Linked DNA regions of Homo sapiens: regions 1, 2, 3, 4 and 5 are each reported to be linked to region 6. The links are microRNA targets in miRTarBase. Many come from high-throughput screens and were not tested one by one. Region 6 holds a microRNA gene; each other region holds the end of a gene's coding sequence.

Evidence for each region. Region 6 holds the annotated microRNA hsa-miR-486-5p (UCCUGUACUGAGCUGCCCCGAG, at 1,200-1,221, shown strand). A microRNA usually pairs through its seed, bases 2 to 8, with sites in the 3' UTR of a target mRNA and lowers its output. Matches are read on the target gene's strand: a 7mer-m8 pairs with bases 2 to 8, a 7mer-A1 pairs with bases 2 to 7 and ends in A, and an 8mer does both.
Region 1: miRTarBase lists ARHGAP5 as a target of hsa-miR-486-5p. Seed matches in the 3' UTR shown: 8mer at 942-949.
Region 2: miRTarBase lists NRP2 as a target of hsa-miR-486-5p. The part of its 3' UTR that is shown has no 7-base or 8-base seed match.
Region 3: miRTarBase lists CLDN10 as a target of hsa-miR-486-5p. Seed matches in the 3' UTR shown: 7mer-A1 at 2,776-2,782 and 7mer-A1 at 2,423-2,429.
Region 4: miRTarBase lists OLFM4 as a target of hsa-miR-486-5p. Seed matches in the 3' UTR shown: 8mer at 2,661-2,668.
Region 5: miRTarBase lists BASP1 as a target of hsa-miR-486-5p. Seed matches in the 3' UTR shown: 7mer-A1 at 409-415.

What each region holds. Positions count from the first base shown.
Region 1 is chr14:32,153,925-32,157,788 of GRCh38, reverse strand. It overlaps ARHGAP5 (Rho GTPase activating protein 5), which reads right to left. Exons shown (of 7, transcript NM_001030055.2): 7 at 1-3,168. The coding sequence ends at 2,841. Among named protein-coding and RNA genes, the nearest start is that of RNU6-7, 46 kb to the left of the region's middle.
Region 2 is chr2:205,794,685-205,797,684 of GRCh38, forward strand. It overlaps NRP2 (neuropilin 2), which reads left to right. Exons shown (of 17, transcript NM_003872.3): 17 at 70-3,000. The coding sequence ends at 374. Among named protein-coding and RNA genes, the nearest start is that of NRP2, 110 kb to the left of the region's middle. RefSeq lists an enhancer at 1,881-2,382.
Region 3 is chr13:95,577,150-95,581,013 of GRCh38, reverse strand. CLDN10 (claudin 10) reads right to left here. Exons shown (of 5, transcript NM_006984.5): 4 at 3,676-3,783; 5 at 1,255-3,114. The coding sequence ends at 3,000. It overlaps DZIP1 (DAZ interacting zinc finger protein 1), which reads left to right. Exons shown (of 23, transcript NM_198968.4): 23 at 1-2,812. Among named protein-coding and RNA genes, the nearest start is that of CLDN10, 26 kb to the right of the region's middle.
Region 4 is chr13:53,049,925-53,053,788 of GRCh38, reverse strand. OLFM4 (olfactomedin 4) reads right to left here. Exons shown (of 5, transcript NM_006418.5): 5 at 1,732-3,820. The coding sequence ends at 3,018. Among named protein-coding and RNA genes, the nearest start is that of OLFM4, 23 kb to the right of the region's middle.
Region 5 is chr5:17,275,674-17,279,479 of GRCh38, forward strand. It overlaps BASP1 (brain abundant membrane attached signal protein 1), which reads left to right. Exons shown (of 2, transcript NM_006317.5): 2 at 1-1,161. The coding sequence ends at 227. Among named protein-coding and RNA genes, the nearest start is that of BASP1, 60 kb to the left of the region's middle. RefSeq lists an enhancer at 1-461.
Region 6 is chr8:41,659,245-41,662,244 of GRCh38, forward strand. MIR486-2 (microRNA 486-2) reads left to right here and starts at 1,200; the gene lies at 1,200-1,263. It overlaps ANK1 (ankyrin 1), which reads right to left. Exons shown (of 43, transcript NM_000037.4): 41 at 2,632-2,697; 42 at 2,186-2,320. The coding sequence ends at 2,222. MIR486-1 (microRNA 486-1) reads right to left here and starts at 1,264; the gene lies at 1,197-1,264.

The DNA.
Region 1 (3,864 bases), not on the chromosome of region 6:
ACATACAGTATGGGAAAAAAAGCTGCTTTTTGGCTAACTTAGATTGCGGTTACCTGCAGTATTTACACTGTAAATGTTAAGGGGAAGAAGCACTACTAACAAATACCATTTAAAAAAAATATATTGTGCCTGGAATTTTATTCTTAAATTAGTTGTATATCCTAATAAGTGTCTGTTGAATAGAATTTGACTTCTAATAAATCTACTGAAAGTGTGAAACAGAGTACCACTATGCTTCTTTATATTGCTAATCTAGATCCTGTTAGGTCCAATATTGTAGTTAACTATAAGCACTGAACCTTAAATGAAACAATGGCAACATGTGTGTAGATGAAATTTTATTCAGTATTGTAAAATATAATGCCTTGATGTTTACTCACAATTATGAGACTATCCTATTCTTTTAATCCTTTAAGAAGTCTCATATGATAGGTCCCTAAACAGTGAAACCTTCCAGTAACTTACCAGAAAAAAGTTTAATTATGTTATTCTGTTCTTAGATGTTTCTAATATTTAAAAGCATATCTAAACCCTTGGCAAAAACAAACACAATCAATTCAGTGTAACAGACTGAGCTTTAAACTGTACTTTAATTTTCAATAACTGTAACCTACTGGTTAATTGAACCAAACGTAGAGTATTTAAATGACTCACTATGAAGTGTGTCAAATCAATGATAGAATGCATAGAAAAGTGGAGATAAGTTTGGGGGAAGGTGCAAGGTGGGTTAATGTGAAAAACGGTAAATGCCAGTTTTAATAACAAAAATGGTACTAAACGCAGATGAACATTAAATTAATACAGTATAAAAGAGAACAGCTTAAATAAACTGGTATTCACATATTACAATAGCAAAGTTATGACAGAATGAACTGAAGACACGAACAGTTTTGAAAATTCTCTTTTCAGCCTACTTCCAAATAGAAATAGTCAGGCTTTTTTCCTGTACATAGTTTGATGCTTTGTCTATACCATATATAGTAGAAAAATAAATTCTTTAGCAACCTAGAAACAGTTTATAAAACTCTTAAAGTTTAATTTTCTTTGCCAGACATGCCAATAGTTAAACTGACAACTATAAATTAAAGCTATATAGACAATAGGTATAAGTAATATAGAACAGGTTAAGAATACTACATTTACCGGATTTTTTTTTAAAAATTACTGTACTTTCTTAATTCCTGTGTGCTTTGCAATAGGAATAATAGGGACTTTGTTTTCTTAGAAAAGATAACATGTAAGAGTATAACACAAATAAGATAATTTATAATATACATGTACTTCAACAGCAGCCTGGTTCATGCCAACATCTTGGTTCTGAAGTTAAAATTGGAAGTACAATACCTAGAACTTAACAGTTGGGAGAGACAATATTTATTTTAGGAAAAAACAGAGCAAATCAAACTCTTAGGAGCCTTGAATCTGAAAATCATCTATTTACTATAATACACATAAGATAATCTTAAATTGTAGTATGAATTAAGATAACATTGACCAAATAATTTTTTTCTTTACTACACAAAATATAACCTAGTGAAATTTACCTGTGCCACCTATTCTGAAAATTTTATCCATAATTTAGTGTTCTGGTTTTATCTTCACTAACAAAATGTTTACCCCCAAAAGCAGCAGTCACTTATAGTAATTCTGGTACCAACATCAAAGGAAAAAATTGGCTTAAAAATGGTGCAAAAGCCATTTTGGATTTTAGTACAACACATCACAGAAAAGAATATGAATACAAATTTGTAATATAAACACTCCAAAGAGTCTGTCAGTACCCAAAGTATTTTTATTGCTATATTAGCAATGGGTTTTTTGGATATTTTTTAAGGGCCACATAAAAATAGATTCAAGGAACAAATTAAATTGAAGTCCTAGATTTAAATGTTTGGTTTAAAGAATTTTCTACAACAAATTTCATGTTTATGTATGAAAAGTTATATAACCTTATATGAAAATGTCATGGAAGTATTTTCTACACTATACTAAATGTGTTCCCCAAGAGGGAAAAAATTAAAATATCTAAAATATATTAGATTAAGATTACAAGACCATCATAGATCTTTTGAACATGCATCTGTTTACAGAATTAACAGTATACAAAATTTTTATTTCATTATGGACCATAAAGAAATGAGTTGGTGACAACTATCCTTTGCACAACATTATCAACTCACTTTAGCCACAAGCATGTCCTTGGTATGTGTGTAAAAGAAATAGGTTCATTTATCCCTCATCAAATCATCCACGGGTTTACTTGGAAGTAAAGATGAAGGTACAGAAATGTGAAATATGTCAAGTGTATTTTTTCTTTCTTTCAAACAACATCCCAAGCATGGCCTCAGTAGCCTGAAATTATAAAATACTTAACTGGGCTTTTAGTTATCTACACCGACTGCCAGAATGTAAATTAAGTTGCCCAAATTAGCACATCAAATAACAAAATCAGCCAGAAAGCAGGCTGAAAAGCATTAAATGTTTCATATAGGTGAGTTTTTAAATCATTTAATTTCTATAGAAAAATTTTATTCACAATATAAGGTGACAGAAATTGCCACAGGAATGATATACTGATTGCAATAAGGTTGCATGCAGCAGCAGCTTTGTACTTTATAGCTATTTTTGTTTATAAAAATTAAACCTCTCCAGTCATGCTTATCACATGGTCTTAGATTTGTAATGTAAGTGAATAAGGAATACCATCTAGTTCAAAGAGAAAATGTAATTTTGAATGTGAATTATCTGTATGAAACATGAAGTATACTACTGAACCCTGAAACATGCATGTCTAGATTTGCTTTTTGTCCAAATCCAGCCTGTTTGCAATCACTTCCTACTCATATAATACCAAGAGGATCCGTTTGTAATTGTGGTTGTATCAGCTGAGGTTGCAATGGTGGCGGCAACTGAAGTGGCACCATTGGTTCCACCAACTGTCCTGGGTTTGAAGGTGGTGGAGGAGCCACAATGTTTGTCGTTTCTACAATTTCTCCATTGTAAAAGAAAAACTGACACTGCTGAATGAATGTTTCAACAACAGATTGATGAATCTTAGTAGTAGACAGAAACTCTCGATTTTCAAAATCAGGTCTCATCAAGGTTGGCCAAAAACAGATGGATAAGTTGTCTGCTGTCATTAGGTTGATTTTATGTTGCTGACTAACCCTGAAATTATGAAAGGAAAAAACATTTAGAAATCAAAACTCATTACAATCACAGAATTCCAGAGCTAGAAATGATCTCAGATTTAATGTTACCTTTTATCCTACTTCAAACCTGGGGTTTAAAAATTTGCATAAAGAAGCATCTTTAATTCGTATGTAAAAAACTTTTCCTGGGCCAGGTGCAGTGGCTCACGCCTGTAATCGCAGCACTTTGGGAGGCTGAGGCAGGCGGATCACCTGAGGTTGGGAGTTCGACACCAGCAGGACCAACATGGAGAAACCCCATCTCTACTAAAAATACAAAATTAGCCAGGCGTAGTGACAAAGCCTGTAATTCCAGCTACTTGGGAGGCTGAGGCAGGAGAATCGCTTGAACCTGGGAGGTGGGGGTTGTGGTGAGCCGAGATCGCGCCATTGCACTCCAGCCTGGGCAACAAGAGTGAAGTGAAATTCCGTCTCAAAAACAACAACAATAACAACAAAAAACCTTTCCTGATGTGACAAATTGTATTGAGTTTCTGGCAACAGAAACAACAAATTCTAATTGTATATGTAACTTCTTTGACTACTGTGAGAGATGAAAAACCAGAGTATGCTCTCTCAACTAGCTTTGGAAAAATTACTACCATAGGTGTTTGACACTAATATCAGGCTAATTTTCCCTTCCTTCCTCTGTTCCTCTCTTTTTTTTTCCTCT
Region 2 (3,000 bases), not on the chromosome of region 6:
GGGAGGCTCAGTCACTTCACCCTGACATAGGCAGTGCCTGCAATCTCTCATGAATTTTATGTATCGCAGATGAATACGAGGTGGACTGGAGCAATTCTTCTTCTGCAACCTCAGGGTCTGGCGCCCCCTCGACCGACAAAGAAAAGAGCTGGCTGTACACCCTGGATCCCATCCTCATCACCATCATCGCCATGAGCTCACTGGGCGTCCTCCTGGGGGCCACCTGTGCAGGCCTCCTGCTCTACTGCACCTGTTCCTACTCGGGCCTGAGCTCCCGAAGCTGCACCACACTGGAGAACTACAACTTCGAGCTCTACGATGGCCTTAAGCACAAGGTCAAGATGAACCACCAAAAGTGCTGCTCCGAGGCATGACGGATTGCACCTGAATCCTATCTGACGTTTCATTCCAGCAAGAGGGGCTGGGGAAGATTACATTTTTTTTTCCTTTGGAAACTGAATGCCATAATCTCGATCAAACCGATCCAGAATACCGAAGGTATGGACAGGACAGAAAAGCGAGTCGCAGGAGGAAGGGAGATGCAGCCGCACAGGGGATGATTACCCTCCTAGGACCGCGGTGGCTAAGTCATTGCAGGAACGGGGCTGTGTTCTCTGCTGGGACAAAACAGGAGCTCATCTCTTTGGGGTCACAGTTCTATTTTGTTTGTGAGTTTGTATTATTATTATTATTATTATTATTATTATATTTTATTTCTTTGGTCTGTGAGCAACTCAAAGAGGCAGAAGAGGAGAATGACTTTTCCAGAATAGAAGTGGAGCAGTGATCATTATTCTCCGCTTTCTCTTTCTAATCAACACTTGAAAAGCAAAGTGTCTTTTCAGCCTTTCCATCTTTACAAATAAAACTCAAAAAAGCCGTCCAGCTTATCCCATCCTCTGATTGTCTTCTGACTTAAGGGATTTACTGTGGTGTAGGTTCTGCCAGCCAACCCTACAAGCTGCCATTTCCAGTCCTAGCATTTAAGTAGGATGTTGTTGCCTTTAACTTTTCTTATCCAGGGGAAAATTGCCATTTTAGGGTCAGCATGAACAGCTCTTTCTTGTATGCGATTTAAAACAAACTGGAAAGGAAACTTCACACGTCAAAATCCATAGAAGCGCCTGGACGAGGCTTAAAGTGCTTTGTGAGTGAATAGGAGCCATTCGCTAATTCTAGACCCACAGTGTCTGGTGGTGGGGCTTCCCTTGTGGGGCTTCTGGTGGTGGTTTTGCCTTTTCTTTTCCCTCCTCCATGTTCTTCTAAAACATATACATATATACATACACACATACACATATTCTTCAGGTCTCTAAGCCCCTGGAAGCAGCATTGTGTGATATTCTCAGAGGCAGGGGAAAATAGAGGGAAAAATAGAGACTATTGGTATGTTCTCCCCATCAGCGAGTTATTGTAACTGGTCACCACTGGACGGGAAGGAGAACAGAGGAGAGGGAAAGAGAAGCCCAACCTCTGTGATCATATGAGGGCCAAGGCTGAGCAGTGTAGACAGAGACCCTTTGAAATGCATTTGTCTCTCAAATAGACTAGTAAACACCGACTTCTCCTTTGGGTTACAAACACCATTTCAACCTTTCGGGAGAGTCAGAGCTAGGATGTACAAGAACTGATTCTAACCAGAAGTCCGCAAGTACTGTGGACAAGAATGCTTAACCATGCTGCTTCAGCCTTGAGAGACCTAGGTTCTTACACATATGCACACACGCATACACACATGCACGCACACACACATACACACATGCACGCACGCACGCATGCACACCAATTTATGTTTTTATTAAGTGCCTTGAAAAAATGAAGAAAAATGTATTTTCCCTTTATGTAAAAATTAGTGAATATCTTATGAATTAAGGCATTCCTCTTTCCCTAACCCCGATGGCTCCATTCCCAAGTACCCCAACTCACTGCTGATCCTATTAAAGGAATGAGTCCTGCTACCCGAGTGGTAGTCATAGCCCTAGATGACTCTCAACTACTCTTCAAAGGGAGGCATCAGGAATAGAATGAAACTGTGTGAAGGATAAGATTGTTCGCATCAAGATCCAAATCTTGATTTCATATTAACGCCTAAGGATTGCCTGTGTGCTGGAAATATATTTGAAACTCAACCAGTATGCCCAGCCTATTGCATATCATTGTCAGACCATTTTTGCTGCTGTGGTCACCCACGATTTCATTTGTCTTATACCCAGGTGAAAGGGGAAGGGTGAATGGGACTGGCTGGTTCCTTTAAATGTTAACTTATGGAAATGCTAGTTCAAATGGTAATGTCACAGTGTTTTGTATGCAGAGAGCAAGAGTTCAACCAACAGCTGTTTATTCATGTGTGTGTGTCTTTGCTGCTTTGAGTTCTCTGTATCTACTGTGTATGTGAATGGTCATGTGGGACTCAGTGGTGGTGTTGTGACTTTGACCTAGGGTCCGAGTGTCACAGCTGATCTTGGCACTCGGCACTCATTGGCACAGTGGTAGTTAGAGGTGAAAAGTAGAGCTGTCAAGCCCAAGGGCTTAGCTTTAGGGCTCCTCCTGAGTTCGGCCCACAGTAGAAGCAAGATTTTAACTAGCCCCTTTTCCTCTTCACCCTCCCATGATGCGCAGTGTTCAGAAAGCTGGTAAGTCCTAGGGATTTCCAGAAGTAGCCTGCAGAAGAAGGTAAGTTTGAAAGCCACTCCAGGGGTCCTGATGCTGTCATGCTCAGTGAGCCATTTTACAGTTCTCCAAAGTCTAGCCCTGTTTCGGACCTGCACTTCACCTCTAAGTTATGTACAACTCAACCTGCATCCCTCTAAAAGTCCTATATCCATATTCACCATTGGCTAATTTGAGGCCCTGAGTGGGCCTTGAATGCTAAAAAGAAGCAGGGTACGCAGGGCTACATGTAGATACCACACCAAGGCTGGAGGCTGGTCTGTCATAAGACAGAAAGAAAGACGCTGGGCCCAATTTTGACTTGGCCAGGGGACACCTTGGTGTGTTTGT
Region 3 (3,864 bases), not on the chromosome of region 6:
ACATTCTGTCCTAATGGTTAGAACAAATCTTTATCTGTTTCCACCCACCCTGGGATCCTTTTTACTTGTAGCCCATTCCTGCCCTCTAAAAGAATCCTTCCAACTTCCTATAGGGGCCATTTCATGCAGATATACTCACTTTATATGTATGTTTCTAAAAGCTTTAGTGAAGGCTGAATCCAAGTTTCATGTAGTAGGACAGAGAACAGAAGGCCGAATCCAAGTTTCATGTGGTAGGACAGAGAACGGCAATCTACAAAACTACACCAAGCCTAAGATGGCCCATGTGCCACTTTGTTCATTCATTTATTTATTCAGCAGATATTTATTGAACCACTTGGTCTGGTTTGGTTTTGAACACGCACTAATTCATTTAATTACAACAACTTTGCGATGTAGTTATTGTTATAATCCTCATCCTAAAGGTGTGAGAAACAGAGTTATTAAGTAAGTTGCCAGAAGCCATACAAGTACAAAGTGTCAAGGGGAGACTTTAAGCCAGGTCTCTATTCCATGTTTTGTGTCTGCCATGTTTTCATTCCTGAGCAGAAGAGCTTGGGGAAATGAACTTTTGCTAAGTAAACCCAGTATTTAAATTAAGTCACTATATCTGTGTCTTTTAAGAGCCCCTCCTTTAGCTTACATGGTTAGTTGTATCTTTTTTTTTTTTTTTTTTTGAGACAGAGTCTCACTATGTTGCCCAGGCTTGAGCGCAGTGGCACCATCTCGGCTCACTACAACCTCCGCCTCCCAGATTCAAGCGATTTTCCTGCCTCAGCCTCCCAAGTAGCTGGGATTACAGGTGCCCACCACCATGCCTGGCTTAATTTTTTGTATTTTTAGTAGAGATGAGGTTTCACCATGTTGGCCAGACTGGTCTCGAACTCCTGACCTCAAATGATCCGCTGTCTTGTCCTCCCAAAGTGCTGGGATTATAGGCGTGAGCCATCGCGCCCTGCTGCATTTCATTTTTTTGTATAAAATTTGGTTTGTTCGTTTTTGAGGGGAACCATTCCTTTATGTTGCCCCTTACTGATGCCCAACTAATGTGTTTCTGGTTACTAACAGACCTTCATCCCCCACCCTCCCTAAATTCTTCGGTGTAATCTAAGCGTTATCTGCACCACTTCTGAATAATAAATGTGTTTGAAATGCACACCTACACAACCCTGTCCCACACTGGCCTGTAGGACCTAATCTACCTTCATGTCTTTCAGTTGATTTGTATTTCTGCAAAAGATATTTCAAGGATTATCAAGGTATGGAATTTTTTTTATTTTTTATCTTTTAACAAACTTGTTCATTTCCTTTTCTTTCCATTGAGCACCTCTGAACAATGTGATTCTTTTTTTTAAGTCTTTCACACTTCAGGAAAATACTACATTCACCCACGTTGTGATTCATATCGGACAGTTTCTTACTCAAAGATAACACAAATACCAATTCTTATTCATACTTTGAAACTATATTTTACCCTAGACTGCCTTGGTTCAAAGGCCTAGTTTCGACATTACTGTGGCAAATTATTTAAGCTCTCTGTTTTCATTTCTTTTTCTGTAAATGCAGGATGAAAACAATATGTATCTCCTAGGATGGCTGTGAGGAGTGAGTGAGACAGGACATGAAAGGTGTGTATGAACTGTGATAACTGTTGCCCTTGTGGGCATGTTATATAGGGCTGGCTCTAGGAAGAAGCCTGTGTCTTTTTTCAGAAATCCCTGGAGCAACTTAAATGTCTTTAGAAATGACAAGTCTCTCAGTTATCCAGTTAGCCGTAAACAGGTTCTGGAAGACACACCTAGATAGAACTCGGCCCGTCAGTTCTGAGTGAGGCACGTACCACTTGGGCTTGGGATGTCCTTAACCCATTTATGCCTGAGGTTGCAATTTTTTGAATTTTTCCAATCACACCTTGGCGATGACCTTGAGCAGTAGGATATAAATAACTCCCACATGCTTAGTGTTCCAATAATGGAACACTAGGCATAAACAGGTTTTAATTGGCTCCTCAGTCAACCATGACCAATATCTCTATCTCAGCTTCTGCTGATGCCCTAGCTCAGGGCTCTGCATTCCGTGCCAGGGACGCCTCAGCCCCTTAACATGGATGTGCCACATGACAGGCAATAATATATTGGCCCCATTAGCCCTTCCTGGAGCAGTCATAATGAATTACAGTCATGACAGGCACATGTAAGAAACCAAAATTTGCTAAATATGTACATGAGTCTTCATCACAGCATCGTTTATGAAAACAACTAAATATTCACTAATGGTGCCAGTGGAATAAATCAGAGAACATCCCCTGCTACGTAACTCTCTGCATACATCAAAGAGAATGGTGTGGCTTTGCTTTTTCAACAATCTACTGAGTGGCCATGGGCATGTGGATATGGCCATGAATGAGCAAGATCCTCTCTGATCCTGTAGAAGTTAAGTTCTACCAGATAACTTGCTGCTTCAACAAAAAGATTTACCTTTTTAAATAAATGTTGTAGAATACTTAAAAAAAACAAACTAGAATTTGCCTGTGTGCAGCCAGTAACATGTCTATTTAACCTGGACACCTTTTGAGGAATATTCTCAGATTGCCCCCATGCTGTTTATAAGACATTGTTCCTTATACACCTGTTTATGAATGAAAAGAAACATAAGGAGTGGGTACAAAGACTTCTATCTATGAATGATTAAAAAGGCTAGAGTACGAATACTTCTTGAACCTTTGGTACTAAATGCTTTTCATGTTCTATATAAATGTAGAAAACATTTTACAAATCCTGTAAATAAACTGTTTATTTTTTATAGAAAGCCACAACAGAAAATGATTAGTATATAACTAACTATGTAAGAACACTTACATCCATACAATCAACAGATGCTTCAAATGCATATTTTAAAAATAGTTTTGAGTGTTAATTATGGGAGGGCCTTGATGGGATCATTTTGTGAACAGTTCGCTTTTATAACAAACTCAAGAGGCAGCTTGCCAGCGAGCTCTTTTAGACATAAGCATTTTTATCAAACTGTTTTGAAGGGTTTGTTGTTTTAAAATCTTCTCCACCATGATACTTTGTCCGAGAAGACATGACAGATGTGGCCCCGTTGTATGTGTATCTGAAAGGTAAAACATAGTTTGGTAGATTCTATTCTACACATAGGGCAAACAAAAATGGGAAGAAACTGTTTCGGCCTGTCTCTGCCAATATCTAAATGTAAATCTTCCTCTTTCTTAGATAGCTTTCTTCTCTCCTCTTGCCCCAAGAAGTATTTTCAGTGTCATTTCTGAGTGGGATGGAGAATCTCTGCAGAAGAAACTCATGACTTGGTCATTTGTTCAGTTATCCTCTTACAAAACCATGTTTTAAAACTCACCCTCCTGGAAGCTAGGAGACTTAGTAGAGGCCATCAACATTCCTGCCTACCTAGAGGAAAATTATGATGAGGCCAACGTGAAGAACATGTCCTCATATTCAGACCCTTATTTCTACGTTAGAATTTTCTTTGGAATATAGTAATGGTAAAACTTTAAAAAATTAACTGTACTGCTAACCTTTTCCAATTCCGGATTTTGGAAGTTTCTAAGAATCATATGAACTATCTGTAATTTGTTCCACATGTAATGATTTATGATAGCATTCTACTTTTTAACAGGTCATTTTTGTCTCTTTTTCATACCTGGGTGTTTTGTTGTTGTCAGATATTGAAAAGCAAAATATGACACCACCAATTATGCACAGTGAGGCTCCTGCCCATCCAATAAACAGAGCGGCTCCTAATTCATACCTGTGAGAAAGCATTACACAAGTATTACAGCTCACTTATTTGGAGAGTAAACAGTATTTAACACTGATAGTCAACATTTAC
Region 4 (3,864 bases), not on the chromosome of region 6:
GCATGACTCTGAATCCTGTGCCCATGACCACTCTATGCAATGTTAATTAATATACAGTCTCACCTGGGTAGGGATGCTTGTGGTACAGGAGTAAAGATTGGAGAACAAACCTTCAACAAGCCTGGTAACAAGAAACCCTCATGCTTTGGGAGCGCTGCCTGGTAGGTTTGATTGGTACACAGATTTAGACCCCTCCCATGGCCCTAGAGGCCACTCAGGAACACTTATAAGGGCAGTAGGTCACCACAGCTCTCCGTAATCCCCTATCCAACCCCAGGAAAGATAGTAAACAATGCAGGGAACCCCAAGAGCATTAGTAATGCCCAGTTCTCCTCTGGGGTAATTTGAACCGACTAATTCCCTTGTTGAAGAAGGCAGATTCAAAAGCCTATTCACTATATAATTCCATGTCCATGACTTTGGGGAAAAAGCAAAGCCGTAGGTATAGGAAACAGATCAGTGGTGGCCAGAGACTGGAGGGTGGGGGTAAGAGTTGTCTATAAAAAAAACACAAGAGAACATTTCAGGGAGGATGGAAGTGTTTTATGTCCTAATTGTGGTAGCCTTTACATGACTATACACTTGTCAAAACTCATTGAATTGTGCACTTAAAACTGGCAAGTTTTACCACATGTGAATTATACCTTATGTAATTTATGTTTATAATATATATATGTAAATTTCAAAACAGGCAGTAGCTGATGAATCTGGAGCTAAATTTCCCATTGTGTAACTGCACTGCGGTAAACCCAGGAGCCTGAATCCCTGAGTCCTTCAACCTTCCCTGCAGGGAGATTTCCTGCAGGCAGCCACTGCAGGCTGATACACCACGTCCAGTGAGAAAGAGGCTGGGAAGTGAATTTTTTCAGGCAAATGCTTCTGTAGCAGTTCAAATAAGAAGCTGATTGCTAGGGTTACCTTGGCTTCCTGCCTCCTTTCCTGAATCTTCAGAGGTCATACTGTGTACTTGGTACAAAACATTGATCTGGAAAACTGCCTAGAGCCAGATTAAATATAACATCCTGGTTTTTAACTTGTATCTCACATGACATACATGTCTTTATCTTCATATCTTGTTGCATTTTGAAGGGCATACCTGTCTCTACACTCAGCCCTGAAGAGATAGGGAAAAATCTTACTAAAATACTAAATATTATAGCTGCCATCTGTCTCAAAAAGTTTGGCAAGGATCCAAAATGAGCATTTCAGTAAGACTAACTACATCAGTCCACTGTGTCCTTCCAGCTCTAGGTCACCTGTCTTCTTACATATTCTCTTTGGTAAAGGTACTTCTCTTCCTGGTATAGCCAGTTAGTCCTTTTGCTTTCTGCCCAAGTCCTCCTGTCTGGGGAAGATCCAGAGGCTTCTGATCCATGTTCATAGCTCAATTGGAAAAGGAACATAAGCTACATAAATGTAGTCTAGCATTGGAAATAATCAGATCAGTCATGCAAATTAATAAGTACATAAGGTCATATCCCAAAAGATAATAGGGCAGTCATGTACAATAAAAGCTGCCAGAAAGAGTGGATTTTAAAGGGAAAGAAAAATGAAAGAGCCAGCCTAACTCTGGGCTCTTATAAAAGTTATTGATGTGATCTGTTGTTAGGTGTGCAATCTCCCCGCACTAGTGTTTGGGAGGTAGCCATTCTCCCAACCTCATAGCAAGATATGGACTACCCTGTTAAGAGCTTTAAAAAAAAATTAAAATTAAATAAAACAAAAGATGACTTTTTTCAAAGCACATTTTAATCATTTATTTTAAAAGGGGGAGTAAAGCATTTAAACTGCCAATCCTATAGACTAGGACTTGAACATCAAAGGAAAAATAGACAAAGACTAGATGATAAAGTCATTCAAAAGCACAGAAGCACATCACATACACCAGCAAGGTTTCCAACTACTGCACTGATTAACTAGATACTCTCAATAGCTTTTCTATAGCTCGTCCTAGAAAAAAAAATTAAATTTTCATTTTCTTACAAGTTCCAGGCTTAAACAAAGGCAAAAATTACATGCAACAACTGATACACTCATAAGTTGCACATATGCTCCAAGGTCTTTATTAGATAACAATAAATGCTAGCACTTTGTCACTGCCATCAGATTTTCTTATAGTCTTAGAGTCATGTAAATAAAAGTTCATAATGAAATTAAAGAAAATTAATTTTTCTAATCTTAGATCAGTTCCATAGAAAACTATTAATTTTTTTAAAGTAGGCAGTAGAAGGGGGTTGGTGGGGGGTGGAATTGGTTAGTAAGTCTGGTTCTAATCTTCTGAGCTGCCTTTGGAAGGAAGTTATGAGGTAGAAGATTCTACTGACTTTTAGTAAGGTGGACAATGAGAGAAAAGAAAAAGCAGGTGCCTCATCTACAGATCCTTCTGGGATTTATTTGCCATGTACAATTTAATGCATAAAAAGGCCTCTCTCCATAAAACTCAGCACTTTACAGATGTAGAATATATAAGCATGCCAAATTTACTTATCTGCCACATACAAAGCATCATTCCAGGTGCTAGTGAGGGGAAAAAAAAGTTGGAGATTTGGTCCCTCGAGGAGCTCCAGATATTAATCTACCTAACTAAGTCCCCAGGTTTCTTCCAGGCATGGAAGAATTAGTGGTGCTACATGGATGAGGACTAGTCATTGGGCAATATTTCCTGTACAAAGAATCCCTAGACGCCATACTGAGTTTTAAGTTCCTTAATTCCTAATTTAAGGCTTCTAGTGAAGCCTCCTCACAGTAGGCTTCACTAGGCCCACAGTGCCCCTAGACCTCTGACAATCCCACCCTAGACAGACTTTATTGCAAAATGCGCCTGAAGAGGCAGATGATTCCCAAGAGAACTCACCAAATCAAGACAAATGTCCTAGATCTCTAGTGTGGTAGAACTATGCACCTAAACATTGCTGCAAAATGAACACACTTTTAGACACCCCTGCAGATATCTAAGTAAGTGGAGAAGACTATTTTTTCAACAAACATTTTCTCTTTCACCCTAACTCCTAAACAGCTTACTGGGGCTTCTGCAAGACAGAAAGATCATAATTCAGAAGGTAACCATCGTTATAGACATAAAGTTTCTGGTCAAAAGGGTTATAGTTAATGCTCTGCACTTTTTCCTGCATCTTATGCATTACAATGTCTAGTTTGCCCTCTTTCCCTGTGTTTGTGTCATAATAGTAAAAAATCTCTTCTGTTCTGGTGTTCATAGTACGGGTGGCATACAGAACCCCACATACCATGAAGGCGTTAGAAGCAGATGGTTTATACTGCTTGGTATACCAAGTGTTTAGCACCTGAAGTGTGGTGTCATTGAGTTTACTAATCACCATGTTACCAGTGCTGGCTTCAGTTGAATAAATAACCCACAATCCATTCTCATCCACAGCAAAGTCAATATCTTGCCAAGCAACATTAGCATATGAAAAGCGGTTATTATAGGCAGCATTAGGGAGAGTTTGAGTCACAGCAATCGTGTTGGTGGTCAGGTTAACTCTGGCAATATTCCCGGTGTTGTACATGTTGACGTACATGTTGTTGTTGTAAACTGCTGTACCACTACCTTGGCCATAGGTGATCCGCAACTCTCGAGCATTTATATACAATAGCAAATCATCCAGTGTGTTGTACAGTCTATAATACTCCAACAGTCTCCCATCTGTATTCAATGGCGCCACCCAATACAGTCCTTTGTTTGGATGCTGGGGAGAGTAATCCCTACCCCAAGCACCATATAGATAAGAAAACCCTCTCCAGTTGAGCTGAACCACAGACGGTTTGCTGATGTTCACCACACCACCATGACCACAGCTCCCTATACAAACAAGAAAATAAAAAGGCATTTTTAGAGAAAAGGAA
Region 5 (3,806 bases), not on the chromosome of region 6:
CGCCCGCAGCTCCTGCCGCCCAGGAGACCAAAAGTGACGGGGCCCCAGCTTCAGACTCAAAACCCGGCAGCTCGGAGGCTGCCCCCTCTTCCAAGGAGACCCCCGCAGCCACGGAAGCGCCTAGTTCCACACCCAAGGCCCAGGGCCCCGCAGCCTCTGCAGAAGAGCCCAAGCCGGTGGAGGCCCCGGCAGCTAATTCCGACCAAACCGTAACCGTGAAAGAGTGACAAGGACAGCCTATAGGAAAAACAATACCACTTAAAACAATCTCCTCTCTCTCTCTCTCTCTCTCTCTCTATCTCTCTCTCTATCTCCTCTCTCTCTCTCCTCTCCTATCTCTCCTCTCTCTCTCTCCTATACTAACTTGTTTCAAATTGGAAGTAATGATATGTATTGCCCAAGGAAAAATACAGGATGTTGTCCCATCAAGGGAGGGAGGGGGTGGGAGAATCCAAATAGTATTTTTGTGGGGAAATATCTAATATACCTTCAGTCAACTTTACCAAGAAGTCCTGGATTTCCAAGATCCGCGTCTGAAAGTGCAGTACATCGTTTGTACCTGAAACTGCCGCCACATGCACTCCTCCACCGCTGAGAGTTGAATAGCTTTTCTTCTGCAATGGGAGTTGGGAGTGATGCGTTTGATTCTGCCCACAGGGCCTGTGCCAAGGCAATCAGATCTTTATGAGAGCAGTATTTTCTGTGTTTTCTTTTTAATTTACAGCCTTTCTTATTTTGATATTTTTTTAATGTTGTGGATGAATGCCAGCTTTCAGACAGAGCCCACTTAGCTTGTCCACATGGATCTCAATGCCAATCCTCCATTCTTCCTCTCCAGATATTTTTGGGAGTGACAAACATTCTCTCATCCTACTTAGCCTACCTAGATTTCTCATGACGAGTTAATGCATGTCCGTGGTTGGGTGCACCTGTAGTTCTGTTTATTGGTCAGTGGAAATGAAAAAAAAAAAAAAAAAAAGTCTGCGTTCATTGCAGTTCCAGTTTCTCTTCCATTCTGTGTCACAGACACCAACACACCACTCATTGGAAAATGGAAAAAAAAAACAAAAAAAAAACAAAAAAATGTACAATGGATGCATTGAAATTATATGTAATTGTATAAATGGTGCAACAGTAATAAAGTTAAACAATTAAAAAGAAGTAATAAAGACTATTGGGTTTTTTGTTCTGTTTGTTTTACTTTTCTAGTCCCCTTCAATAACTACTTTATCAGAGAACAGAGCACTGTATTGGCCATTTTTCTGAATATATTTGGATAGAAGTAAAAAAATAGACCAGGGACGGTGGATCACGCCTGTAATCCCAGCACTTTTGGAGGCCGAGGCAGGTGGATGGCTTGAGCCCAAGAGTTGAGGACCAGCCTGAGTAAGATAGTGAGACCCCACCTCTATTTAAAAAAAAAAAAATGCCAACATTATTTGTTGAAAAAAATAGCTAGGGCAATGTCAGTAAACTATCTCAGAAGAAGTTAAACTGAAAACTTACTGCATCTATGCATATGCACCCTCTGAAAATGTAACTAATTAAGAAGAAGAAAGATTTTGAATAAAACACGTTAAAAGACAATAAATAGATTTGATCTTGAAGGCTGGGGAAAAAATGAATGACAGGATCTTATAGAAACCTGTGTTTGTAAATTGTGGCACCACTAATGGTTATTCTGTTCTATCCCATCCCCTATTTTTATTTTTATCATATTCATGGTAGAGCCAGGAAAGGCCACCTGAGAATTGTGCTATGAGACAGCAGTGATGCGGAAGCAAGCATGGAGCCGGCCTTTATGGTGACCGGATTTCGGTCCTGATTTTGCCACTAGTGACTTGGATGGGTTTTAAGTCACTTCCAACCTTCCCAGACCTTCCTTGCTTTACTTACAAAAGGGTGTAGCCTTTATGATCTCTGAGGCAAGGTCCCATTTAATGGTTTGGGTACATACCCGGTGACAATTTAATGTCACGATGCATAGGTATGCACAGACTGATGGGATGTCTCTTCCATGTCTTGATTCTCCAAAACTCACAGAGTAATGAATAACAATTTCATAGTTTAGAAAACTCCGACATAGGAAATGTCCTGTGGAATGTGTGAAGGCCAGTGTAATGGAATTGATTCTCAAAGGGACATTAATGACACAATGGATTCAGACGAACCTGGTTCCATTCTTACGGGTTACATTACACATGGTTAAATAAAAAAGGGAAAAAAATCTTTGAGTATTTTGGGAGTAGCCTATAGTCTGTCTCTTACCTCATTGGGAAAGAAAAAGTGGTGAAAGTGAGGATTATGTAAGTATTATACCCGTTGGGTTCAACTGGTATTTATGATCATTTTTTGGCACTTTGGGTTCTTGTTTCTATAGTGAGATAAATTTGAATTCTTAATGCTTGAAAGCACAGCATACAAGAAATCTGTAAACACAGTAACCACCAGGCAACTGTTTTACATAAGGAAAAAGAAGGGGAATGTCCAGGTAATTACCCGCGTGTCCTCGCATATACAAAATAGCTTGGGGGCCGGTGATGGTGATGGAGTGGTAAAAGATTCAGTGAACCATGGAGGACATTTATATAGTTACTGATTAAATGCCATGCATTTATTGCAGAAAAATATGCTTGGTGGAAGTAATATTTTATATATTCACTGTCTTCCCCACTTCCCCTTCTTCTAATAAAAAAAATGCTAAGCTTTTTGGTAATTAGAACAATCAAATCAGCCTCCCAGATTAGCATTTATTACTACAAATTGCCATTTTTTGAATAAATGAAACTGAGACATTTTTCTGAATTTATTTGGAGTTGCAGAGTAGGAGAATTAAAATCTGAGCTATATATATTTATTTTTCTTTTTTATAACTCCATTAGGTGTTGAAGCAACTAAAAAGTGTTAGAAATATAGTCACCAAAATGTTTAAATCAGAATTTTAACCTAGCCATGGTTCATGACATTGAATTTTACCATACTGAAGAAAAAAACTTGAGCTGTAGTTTGAAGTTGTATATGCAGCAGAAAATGTAGTACGTGTGGGAGTAATTGGCTCAGCCAGGAAGGGAACAATGTTGGGCCATGTTAATTTGGATTAACCTAGATTGTTCTTGCCTCATGAATGATTTAAAATGAAGAGAAGGGACTGCACAGCCTGTGCTGAACAGGCAAGTCAGAACCATCGGGGAACTTACCGCATATTTGCTTCACTAACTTAGGCATGTCCCTCTCCTCTATGAAGAATGAAGTGTTCCAGGGTCTAACGTTCATTTACTGGGTGCCTTTGTGCGTACTGCAAGGAGGAAACTATGAGGAATCCAGAGGAACTTGTACAGGGATGCCAGGCTTGTCCCTCCACTTTGAAGATTCTTTTCCGTAGCTGATGCCGCCTCTGCATGATGGGAATGGACTCTGGTCCCCAAGAGCTGGCATGTGCCATGCATCCCAGGATGGCCCTTCCTGGTCTCAACCCTGAGAGAAGGCCATCTTCAGTCTGTTCCTGGCAATATGGAGGCAGAGGTGGTACTGGCACTCCCGGAATGTCATTCCCCAGTCTTGGAGAATCTTCTTTCTCTCTGGAATCAAGACGTAGGTCTAGTGGACAGTAAGGACTTGGTTGTCAACTACTTGCGCTGACAAGACCTAGACATACTTTAGCTGGGTAACTTCTTTACCTAAGTTGGGTAAATCATTAGGTACCAGCATAGCCAAGAGTACTTACTGCATTGCTAACAGGAAGTTTGTTTTCGTAAAGCATCCTGGGACTTTAATTTTCCTTGAATGAAACATCATGGTATAACAAA
Region 6 (3,000 bases):
GGCCATTCTAAACAATGAAACCAAAAATGTGAAAAATGTGGCACTACACAAGCTGCAAGGAGGACACTTATTTATAGTATGAGGCACAGAGGCAGAGTGTGGCATTGTTCATCCTCAGCTGGGATTGCACGGGTTGGGCGACTCAAACTTTCTGCCCTTGTGTGTGTGTCCATGAATGAGCCAAAGCACGGTGAGTGCCAGCTTTGGGGCTACAGATAAATGTTAGCGAGTGGACGAATTCGCAAATGCAGAATCCGTGAATGATGAGGATCGACTGTACATGCTTGTCGGGGATGCGGATAGTAAATTAGGAAGCCTTTGGGCCCTCAACCGTCTTCTCTGTAGCCTTTGCCCTGGTTGGGAGGGTAGGGCATTTAATGCTGTCCCCTAACCCTCTGGGACTTTGGCAGGAGCTTTTCTCCGCCTCTCCCTCACCACTGCTCTCGCCCCACCGCCCCACCCCCCTGCCACCCTCACACTTGTCCCTGTGCCTGTCACTGACAGAGGGCCAAGTGCTGTCCCAGAGCCAGGCTGCTCCGTGTTTCTGACACCCATGCTAGTGTGGTCCGGTCCTTAATCACCTGAGGTTGGGGGGCTTCAGCCACATTGCAGATCACTTACGGCAAATTAAAATGAAATTCAAGGCTCCCTCCTTCCCCCTAGCCTGGCTTTCGGGCTGCCTCTCTCCCACTCAGGAGCATCCATAGAGCCTGAGCCAAAGAGAAATTTAAAGCCACAGCCGCCACTGCTACCATAAGAAAAATAAGTCAGAAAAGTGTACTTTTCCTTTCCCTTTGCTGCTTTTAAACATTATTTGCATCTTTGGGTTCTTTCCAGGACCCAACAGCAGCTACTCAGAGTCTTCTAAACCAGCAGCCTAGTGGGACCCCTGGCAGTGCAGGGGTTAACACGGTGACCTCCTTAAGCTGCTGAGGTGTCAGGTCTAATTTTATCCTATAACTGGATCTGCCAGTCCTCTTTTTTGCCCAAGTGCTGAGATATATTGGGAAGCCCAGAGTCAGCACTTTTGGTGGCTCAGGAGGCAGCGGGCCCTGATTTTTGCCGAATGCAGAAAGCTAGAGCCTCCTTGCTGCTCGGTCCCAGAGTCAGGCCCTGGGGTGTGAATGGTAACGGCCTGGTTAGTGCTGCACTGGGGCCACCATGCCCCCTCACCTCCTGCTGACTCCCACCCCGAGGTATCCTGTACTGAGCTGCCCCGAGCTGGGCAGCATGAAGGGCCTCGGGGCAGCTCAGTACAGGATGCCCCAGGGAGGATGGAGATCAGAGCCGGCCGCTGAAGCCCCCAGCACCACACACACCTGCTGGAGATGGTCGCACAGCGTCTTCATGTCCCTTCCTCATGGCACGGCACGGCACGGCATGCCCCTGCTCTGTGGCCACACTGCCCCATGCTCACACACATGCACCACAGCCCAGGCCCCGGCCCCAACCCTGACGGTCTCCTGACTTGCAGAAAGCACGTCGTCCACCCCTTAGGCCTGTCGGCTCAGCCCTTTCCTAGAAAGCAAGGGAGCAACGTGTTTCACAAAACACCAAAGAGAAGCTAAGCCTTGGCCTGGTGAGAACTGTAGCTGGGCTCCAGGTTCAAGAGACAGTCCAGTCCTCAGTCTTGGAGCTCTTATGTTGAAGCATCACAGCCCAGACCAACTCTCCTGTCCTCTTCAATGCCCTGTCCACTGCTTTCTAGATCCCCATTGCTTGGTTTCCAAGATAATATTACCACTTAGATTTACAGAGTGCTTTTACTTTTCAAAGAGCATTTTTTTCTTTCTGGCTTTTTTTTTTCTTTTTTTTGTGATGGGGTCTTGCTCTGTTGCCCAGGCTGGTCTTGAACTCCTGGCCTAAAGCAATCCTTTTGCCTCGACCTCACAAAATGCTGGGATTACAGACATGAGCCACTGTGCCCGGCCCAAAAGGCATTCTTACAAAACCGTGCGGTCCCTGATAAGTGGATATTATTAACTCTGTTTCCTTGATGAGGAAGCTGGGGTTCAGAGCCAACTGTTAGCAGGGTTGGGAAGTGAGAATCTCTGCCTCGAGACACAACAACAAGTTGTTTGTCCCACATCATGCTGGGGTGGCTGGGAGGGGATAGGGTGAGACAGGGAGCAGCCACTCCACTGAAGACCAGGCCATGCAGAGGGGATGAGAAGGGCAGCGTTACCTCCCGAGAGGCTACTCCAAGGAGAGCGGCTCGGGGTCACTGTTTCCCCCTTTTCAGGCTGGCCCGCTTCACTATCTGCGCCCCCTTCCTGCCCTCTATCAGGTCCGGCTGTAGGCCACTCCCTCTCAGCTCCACCTGCAGACAGCAGCAGAGACAGAAAGCAGGACAGATCGCAAAGACGGGCAGAACACAGGCAGAAGATCGAAAGGAGGCCACACGGAGGTGGCAGACACACTGCCCACCAGGGAGAAGAGAGACTGGAGAGAGAGCTCATAAAGAGGTGAGTGGAGGGAGGTGTCATGCAGACGGCCCGGCAGAGCAAGGCAGCAGTGATGGCGCTGGGTCCCCCAGGGCCGCGGGCGCCTCAGTACCTTGGAGTGTTTCATAAAGTAATCAATATCGACCTCCAGCTCACTGGGATCCTCCAGGGGCCCCTCTACAGTCACCTCCTCGTGCTCCTGGGCGGCATCGGCGCTGGACAAGTCTATCTGTCGAACCACCTTGCGAATGATCTAGGAAAGGAAGGGAAGGAGGAAAGGGCTGGTCAGGCCGGGCTCGGGGGCTCATGTCTGTAATCTCAGCACTTTGGGAGGCTGACGTGCAGATCATCTGAGGTCAGGAGTTTGAGACCAGCCTGGCCAACATGGTGAAACCCTGTCTCTACTAAAAATACAAAAATTAGCCCGGTGTGGTGGCAGGTGCCTGTAATCCCAGCTACTCAGGAGGCTGTGGCAGGAGAATCACTTGAACCTGGTGGATGGAGGTTGCAGTGAGCTGAGATTGCATCACTGCACTCCAGCCTGGTTGACAGAGCA